Linked DNA regions of Homo sapiens. The gene in region 1 interacts genetically with each later gene. Each region holds a gene or a part of one and is shown on either strand. Other genes may lie near its edges.

The links.
Region 2: changes in KDM3A (region 1) and PRMT5 together harm fitness more than expected from each alone (negative genetic interaction), as found in Homo sapiens cells (one large-scale study listed by BioGRID).

The regions. Positions count from the first base shown.
Region 1 is NC_000002.12:86,465,371-86,468,870, forward strand, and holds part of KDM3A (lysine-specific demethylase 3A), read left to right. Parts: intron 1-1,001; coding exon 1,002-1,513; intron 1,514-3,500. UniProt on the Homo sapiens protein: Histone demethylase that specifically demethylates 'Lys-9' of histone H3, thereby playing a central role in histone code.
Region 2 is NC_000014.9:22,923,203-22,926,376, reverse strand, and holds part of PRMT5 (protein arginine N-methyltransferase 5), read left to right. Parts: intron 1-80; coding exon 81-244; intron 245-1,336; coding exon 1,337-1,498; intron 1,499-1,667; coding exon 1,668-1,745; intron 1,746-1,839; coding exon 1,840-1,898; intron 1,899-1,935; exon of another isoform or gene 1,936-1,984; coding exon 1,985-2,107; intron 2,108-2,193; coding exon 2,194-2,369; intron 2,370-2,969; exon of another isoform or gene 2,970-3,174. UniProt on the Homo sapiens protein: Arginine methyltransferase that can both catalyze the formation of omega-N monomethylarginine (MMA) and symmetrical dimethylarginine (sDMA), with a preference for the formation of MMA.

The DNA.
Region 1 (3,500 bases):
GCTGCCAGTTTGTTAGTTTTTTTTTAGTTTTTGAGGTTTTTTAGAGACAGGATCTTGCTCTGTTGCCCAGGAGGGAGTGCAGTTGCAGTGGTACAGTCAAAGTTTAAGTTTACTGCAGCTTTGAACTCCTGGGCTCAATTGATCCTCTTGCCTTAGCCTCCCAAGTAGCTGGGACTACAGGCGCGTGCCACCACACCAGGCTAATTTTTAATTTTTTTGTAGAGATGGGGGACTTGCTATTTTGCCCAGTCTGGTCATGAACTCCTGGCCTCTAGCAGTCCTCTCATCTTGGCCTCCCAGAATCCTGGGATTACAGGTGTGAGCCCTTGTGCCTTGCCCATTGTTCGTTTTTAATTAGATTTTGTGTGAATATCTTTGAAGGGATTTCTAACATTTTTTATATACGTATATATTTTAGAATTTTTATCTTGACACATTGACCTTTACTAGAGGTTCAATTTTTGACTCTTGGCAAGTAGCAAGAATGGAGTTTTATCTTTAAAATTCAAACATAATCTTTACTATAGAAGAAAGAGTTTTAGCAGAGGTTTCTCTGAAATTTACACACAAAAAAAAAAAAAAAAAAAGAAGAAAGAAAACTTTCGGAATTGCCCCTACACAGACTTCTGGTTTTGATACTTATAAACCAGCTTATCTGCTGAGTATATTCTTTGGTTTCATACAATATTTTGTTTTGAGGGAAAGCTAAGGTTCATTGTGCTGTGAGAAGTAGAACTAACGTAAGAAGTTAAAGATTTCTGAGAACGTGCAGACATAATTTAGGGTTGTATTTTTCTGAGTGTTTATGATTTTTGCAGAACCATTGACTGATGACTTTTAACTCTAGCTCACAGAAATCTATCCTAAATTCTGTAACATATGAGAAATTTTCTTTTTTCTTTCATACTCGTTACCTTAGGGAACCAAACAGTTTGTTTGGGGAAGATAATGGAGAGATAAAAAGAGGCCTGGATGCTAGCTTTCTATATTATATTTTTCAGATGTCATAAACAAAGTTTACCAGAGGAAATTTCTTCCTGTCTAAATACAAAGTCTGAAGCTCTGAGAACAAAACCAGATGTCTGCAAAGCAGGGTTGCTCTCAAAGTCCTCTCAGATTGGAACTGGAGACTTGAAAATTCTGACTGAGCCAAAAGGCAGCTGTACTCAGCCTAAGACAAACACTGATCAGGAAAACAGATTGGAGTCTGTTCCACAAGCATTGACTGGCCTTCCTAAGGAGTGCTTACCTACAAAGGCTTCTTCTAAGGCAGAATTGGAAATTGCCAATCCTCCTGAACTGCAGAAGCACCTAGAACATGCACCTTCCCCATCGGATGTTTCAAATGCACCAGAAGTGAAAGCAGGTGTCAATAGTGATAGCCCTAATAACTGTTCAGGAAAAAAGGTAGAACCTTCAGCTTTAGCTTGCCGATCACAGAATTTAAAGGAATCTTCAGTAAAAGTAGATAATGAAAGCTGTTGTTCAAGAAGCAACAATAAAATCCAGAATGGTGAGTGTTTCTCAATATCTTTATTGGTAGAAGGTAAGAAATGGTAGATATATATATCTCTTTCTTGTCCTATGAGAAACTATGTGAAAATGACTTTGTAGAAATAGTTTATACAGTCAGAAAAGTTGAAAGAAGGTATAATTCCCAAATCTCAGAAACGATTACTGTTAATATTTTGGTGTACCTGGTTTCATGTATATAGAAATACAGATAAACTGTATTACACAAATGGGTTCATGCCAATAATTTTACCCTGTGAATTAGTGTAGGTGTCTATTAGTATTTTAAAGCAAGGATTCCATTATGTTCATTTACCATAGGATTTAACTGGTTCCTATTAGGTGGGTAATTAGGTGGTTCCCAATTCTTAGGTTAAGAAAATTTTGAAACAAAATCTAAAGTAATCTGGTGTTTACTTTATTTCAGCTTGTCACTGATCTTTCTGTTACATCCAGGTTGGAGTAGGAAGAGGTGATCTGTGACAGGTAGCTAAGATTTGAAATTTTAGAAAAGATGCAGAATTGTATCATTTCTGGAAAAAGGACTTGGGTTAAAGATGTTACGGATAGGGCTGAACTACCAGGAAGAGTCTCTTTGCTTAAGGGGAGGTCCTGCTGCACCCACAATTTAAAACTACTCTTCTTATGGGGAAATTGGTACGTTGTACTTGATGCTACTTATATGAAGTTTGAGGATGCATTATAATGGTGGTAGTTATCAGAAGCTCTGTTACTAGAGTTAGAAGAACAAAATGTTTTCAGCATGTCAAAAGGTTTAGAGCTATTAGAATTTAAAGATGCCTTTTGATCACTGTTAGCTATGTGGGAAATTGATATGGATTTTGTTAATGTTTTAGGCTGGGCATAGTAGCTAACACCTGTAATCCTAATACTTTGGGAGACCACTGTGGGAGGATTGCTTCAGACCAGGAGTTTGAGACCAGCCTGGGCAACATAGTGAGACCCCATCTCCACAAAAAATTTTTTTAAAAATCAGCCAGGCATGGTGGGGCACACCTGTTATTCCTAGCTACTGGAGAAGCTGAGGCAGGGGGGTTGCTTGACCCCAGGAGTTGGAGGCTGCGGTGAGTTATGATTGTACCACTGTACTCTAGCCTGGGCAACAGAGTGAGAGCTTGGCTCAAAAAACAAACAAACGAAAACAACCTACGAAAACAATTTATTTATTTGGATCAGTAAAAATGAATATATCTACACTATCTTTTTAACTGCAGGCCTCTGTGAAATTAGAGGGCAAGATGGCTGGATTTGACTTGCGAATCTTTTTAGTATAGCATTGGAAGAATAGAAAGAACTTTCTTTGCCTAGCAATACTTCTAACCTAGCTTCTTCATTGAGGCTTAAGTTAATATAGCTGTTAATTTGCATAAAATTAATTGCATAAGATTATCCTGTTCTCAGAAATTAGGTAACACTCAAAAGAAAGTACATATTCATAACCATATCCTTGTTCTATTTGTTGTTTTTGAATCATCAGCTCTCACACACAGCTAGTTTTTGAAGCAAATTTAATATTATGTGACGAAACAGTAAAGATTCTAGTGCAATAAGCACATGATAGATACACAAGTGAGTTACGGAGTCCAGCTTTGTCTCATTTAATATGTTATGTAGCTATTCCCCATCTAATGGATTTTAAAAGAAGTGAAAAACTTACATCCTGGAGTAGCACATCCTGCTATCTACTGTGACTTTTTTTTTTTGGTTGAGGTGTGAGAGTGTGATCAGAAGCCTACCGGGACTTCTGAGCTGTGTCCACTAGTACTGCATGTTAGTACAGAAGGCTTGGAAAACTTTTCTGCTCCTTTCTTCCACTTGGGGTCTAGAAAACAAAAGCAAACTGGAGTCAAACAGCTGCCTTTTTTTCCGTTCAGATAGATACGTGGCTCCTCGGAAGTGGGCGTTGCATTTTTCTCTTGACTTGGCTTTGAATTCAGAGAATCACTGATGGTAGCACCTGTTGCTCT
Region 2 (3,174 bases), on another chromosome or scaffold:
GTAAACAGATTTTGCGCAAAGGAGCAAGGAAGGGTTTCTTGCCTGGCAGTGGTTGACAGTTTTTCTTTTGCCTCATGTAGCTCTTGAAATTGGGGCTGACCTCCCATCTAATCATGTCATTGATCGCTGGCTTGGGGAGCCCATCAAAGCAGCCATTCTCCCCACTAGCATTTTCCTGACCAATAAGAAGGGATTTCCTGTTCTTTCTAAGATGCACCAGAGGCTCATCTTCCGGCTCCTCAAGGTGAGTGGTAGGAGGGTTCTAAAGGTAGTCCAGCTATACATCTTGCCTTATTTACCTGTGTATGATCGTTTTTTCCTGTGAGGCTGACTCTTTTTCTTTGGTTTCTGGGGAGCAATTTCAGTGAAGTTGGGAATCTTGAGAACAAAAAGGTAAATGCCAGTAGTAGCCCTAGAAACCTTTCAAAACAAACCAAACCTCATGAGAACTTTGCAGAAGGTTTCATTTAGGAAGTTACAGCAAGGATCCATGAGGCTGTTTGGGTGTTGATACTTTCATGGCATAAGAGGGCTTTTTCTTTTTTCTTTTTTTTTTTGAGACAGGGTCTCACTCTGTTACCCAGACTGGAGTGCAGCCATACCATCTCAGCTCACCAGAACCTCTGCCTCCCAGGCTTAAGCGATTCTTCTGCTTTAGCCTCCTGAGTAGCTGGGATTATAGGAATGCACCACTACTGCCCGGCTAATTTTTGTATTTTCAGTAGAGACAGGTTTTATCATGTTGGCCAGGCTGGTCTTGAACGCCTGACCTCAAATGATCCACCCGCCTCGGCCTTCCAAAGTATTGGGATTACAGGCGTGGGCCACCACGCCCGGCCAAGGGGGCTTTTTATAAGTTTACTGAAGCCTCATGCTGCCTTTGTTGGTATTGGGACAGACGCTAGAGAACTGTTGGTCTGGGCCAGGTGCAGTGGCTCGCGCCTGTAATCCCAGGACTTTGGGAGGCTGAGGCGGATGGATCATCTGAGGTCAGGAGTTTGAGACCAGCCTGTCCAACATGGTGAAACCCCGTCTCTACTAAAAATACAAAAATTAGCCAAGCATGGTGGCACGCACCTGTAGTCCCAGCTACTTGGGAGGCTGAGGCAGGAGAATTGCTTGAACCTGGGAGGTGGAGGTTGCAAGTGAGCCAAGATCACGCCATTGCACTCCAGCCTGGGCAATAGAGCGAGACTCCATCTTTTTTTTTAAAAAAAAAAAAAAAGAGAACTGTTGATCTGGGCCTTATTTTACACTAGGGCTCTTTGGCCATATACCATAATATTCCAGAATCTTGGTTTGAGGGCTGTGTCTGATGGTCTGACTTTTCTCACAGTTGGAGGTGCAGTTCATCATCACAGGCACCAACCACCACTCAGAGAAGGAGTTCTGCTCCTACCTCCAATACCTGGAATACTTAAGCCAGAACCGTCCTCCACCTAATGCCTATGAACTCTTTGCCAAGGGCTATGAAGACTATCTGCAGTCCCCGCTTCAGGTGGGTCTGGAGTGCACTTAGAGGAGGAAGGTGGGATGGAAAATGTTTCTTGAGAATATATGCCTCCAAATCTTACTAAAACTCAGAAAGCAGTGGAAAGTTTTTGATATTTTAGTGCATTGTCCTTTGCCAGAAACTGGCTAACTTTGTCCTTTTCCTCATTCATCAGCCACTGATGGACAATCTGGAATCTCAGACATATGAAGTGTTTGAAAAGGACCCCATCAAATACTCTCAGTACCAGCAGGTACTGTGTGGTGCCCAGGGTGAGGAAAGCACAGGGCCAGCATGACCTGGGGAGGATGGGATTACAACCATGGGATATTCTCTCCTCCCTCCAGGCCATCTATAAATGTCTGCTAGACCGAGTACCAGAAGAGGAGAAGGATACCAATGTCCAGTGAGTGCTTTCCCCTCAATCTCAGGGACTTGCATACCTATATCTGTATATGCCAAGTCTGCTTGACTCTTCCCTTTCTTTCTTAGGGTACTGATGGTGCTGGGAGCAGGACGGGGACCCCTGGTGAACGCTTCCCTGCGGGCAGCCAAGCAGGCCGACCGGCGGATAAAGCTGTATGCTGTGGAGAAAAACCCAAATGCCGTGGTGACGTGAGTAGCAACCTGCTTGCTGGGAAGTTAGTCCTCATTGCCAAATTTCCTTAACATCTCTCCTTACCTTATTGTCTCTGTTTCAGGCTAGAGAACTGGCAGTTTGAAGAATGGGGAAGCCAAGTGACCGTAGTCTCATCAGACATGAGGGAATGGGTGGCTCCAGAGAAAGCAGACATCATTGTCAGTGAGCTTCTGGGCTCATTTGCTGACAATGAATTGTCGCCTGAGTGCCTGGATGGAGCCCAGCACTTCCTAAAAGGTGCCCCCAGGTTGGGGTGTAGGTGGAGGGTGATGATGGGTGAGACAGCAACCTGGGAGGAGGGTACAGGGTTTAGGGGAAAGTGGGTTGGACCTGGGTCACATCATATGAGTTTGAGAGCCACTGCTTCACTGCCTCTGTGCCCCTAGCAAATGAAGTCATCTCTCCAAACCTTAGTGTTCATATTTGTAAAATGAAGGGAGTGGGCTGGGCGCGGTGGCTCATGCCTGTAATTGCAGCACTTTGGGAGGCCAAGGCGGGAGGTCAGGAGTTTGAGACCAGCCTGGGCAACATGGCGAAACCCCATCACTACTAAAAATACAAAAATTAGCCAGGCGTGGCGGTGCACGCCTGTAATCCCAGCTACTCGGGAGGCTGAGGCGCGAGAATCACTTGAACCTGGGAGGAGAAGGTTGCAGTGAGCTGAGATTGTGCCACTGCACTCCAGCCTGGGCAACAGAGCGAGACTCCATCTCAAATAAATAAATAAATAAATAAATAAATAAATAAATATGACATATGTACCCTGAGCTTAGCTTTCATCAGGAACTTTTGTGGGACTTTGTGACCCCACAAAAGTTAAGAACCACCAGATTAGACTATCTTGGGTTCTTTCAGTTTTAATCTGTGTGACTCTGTAAATTAACCTAGTAGTGGAATCCTCCATGACAGTAGTTGGAAGCAGGCTGGCTTAGTAATGTGACAACATGCATTTGTCTCTTTCTTCCATGCCCATGCCAACGTTGGTTGGTTTTGACATGGGAGGTTTGATCCTTCTGATCCTTCAGTTAGTACAGACATACCA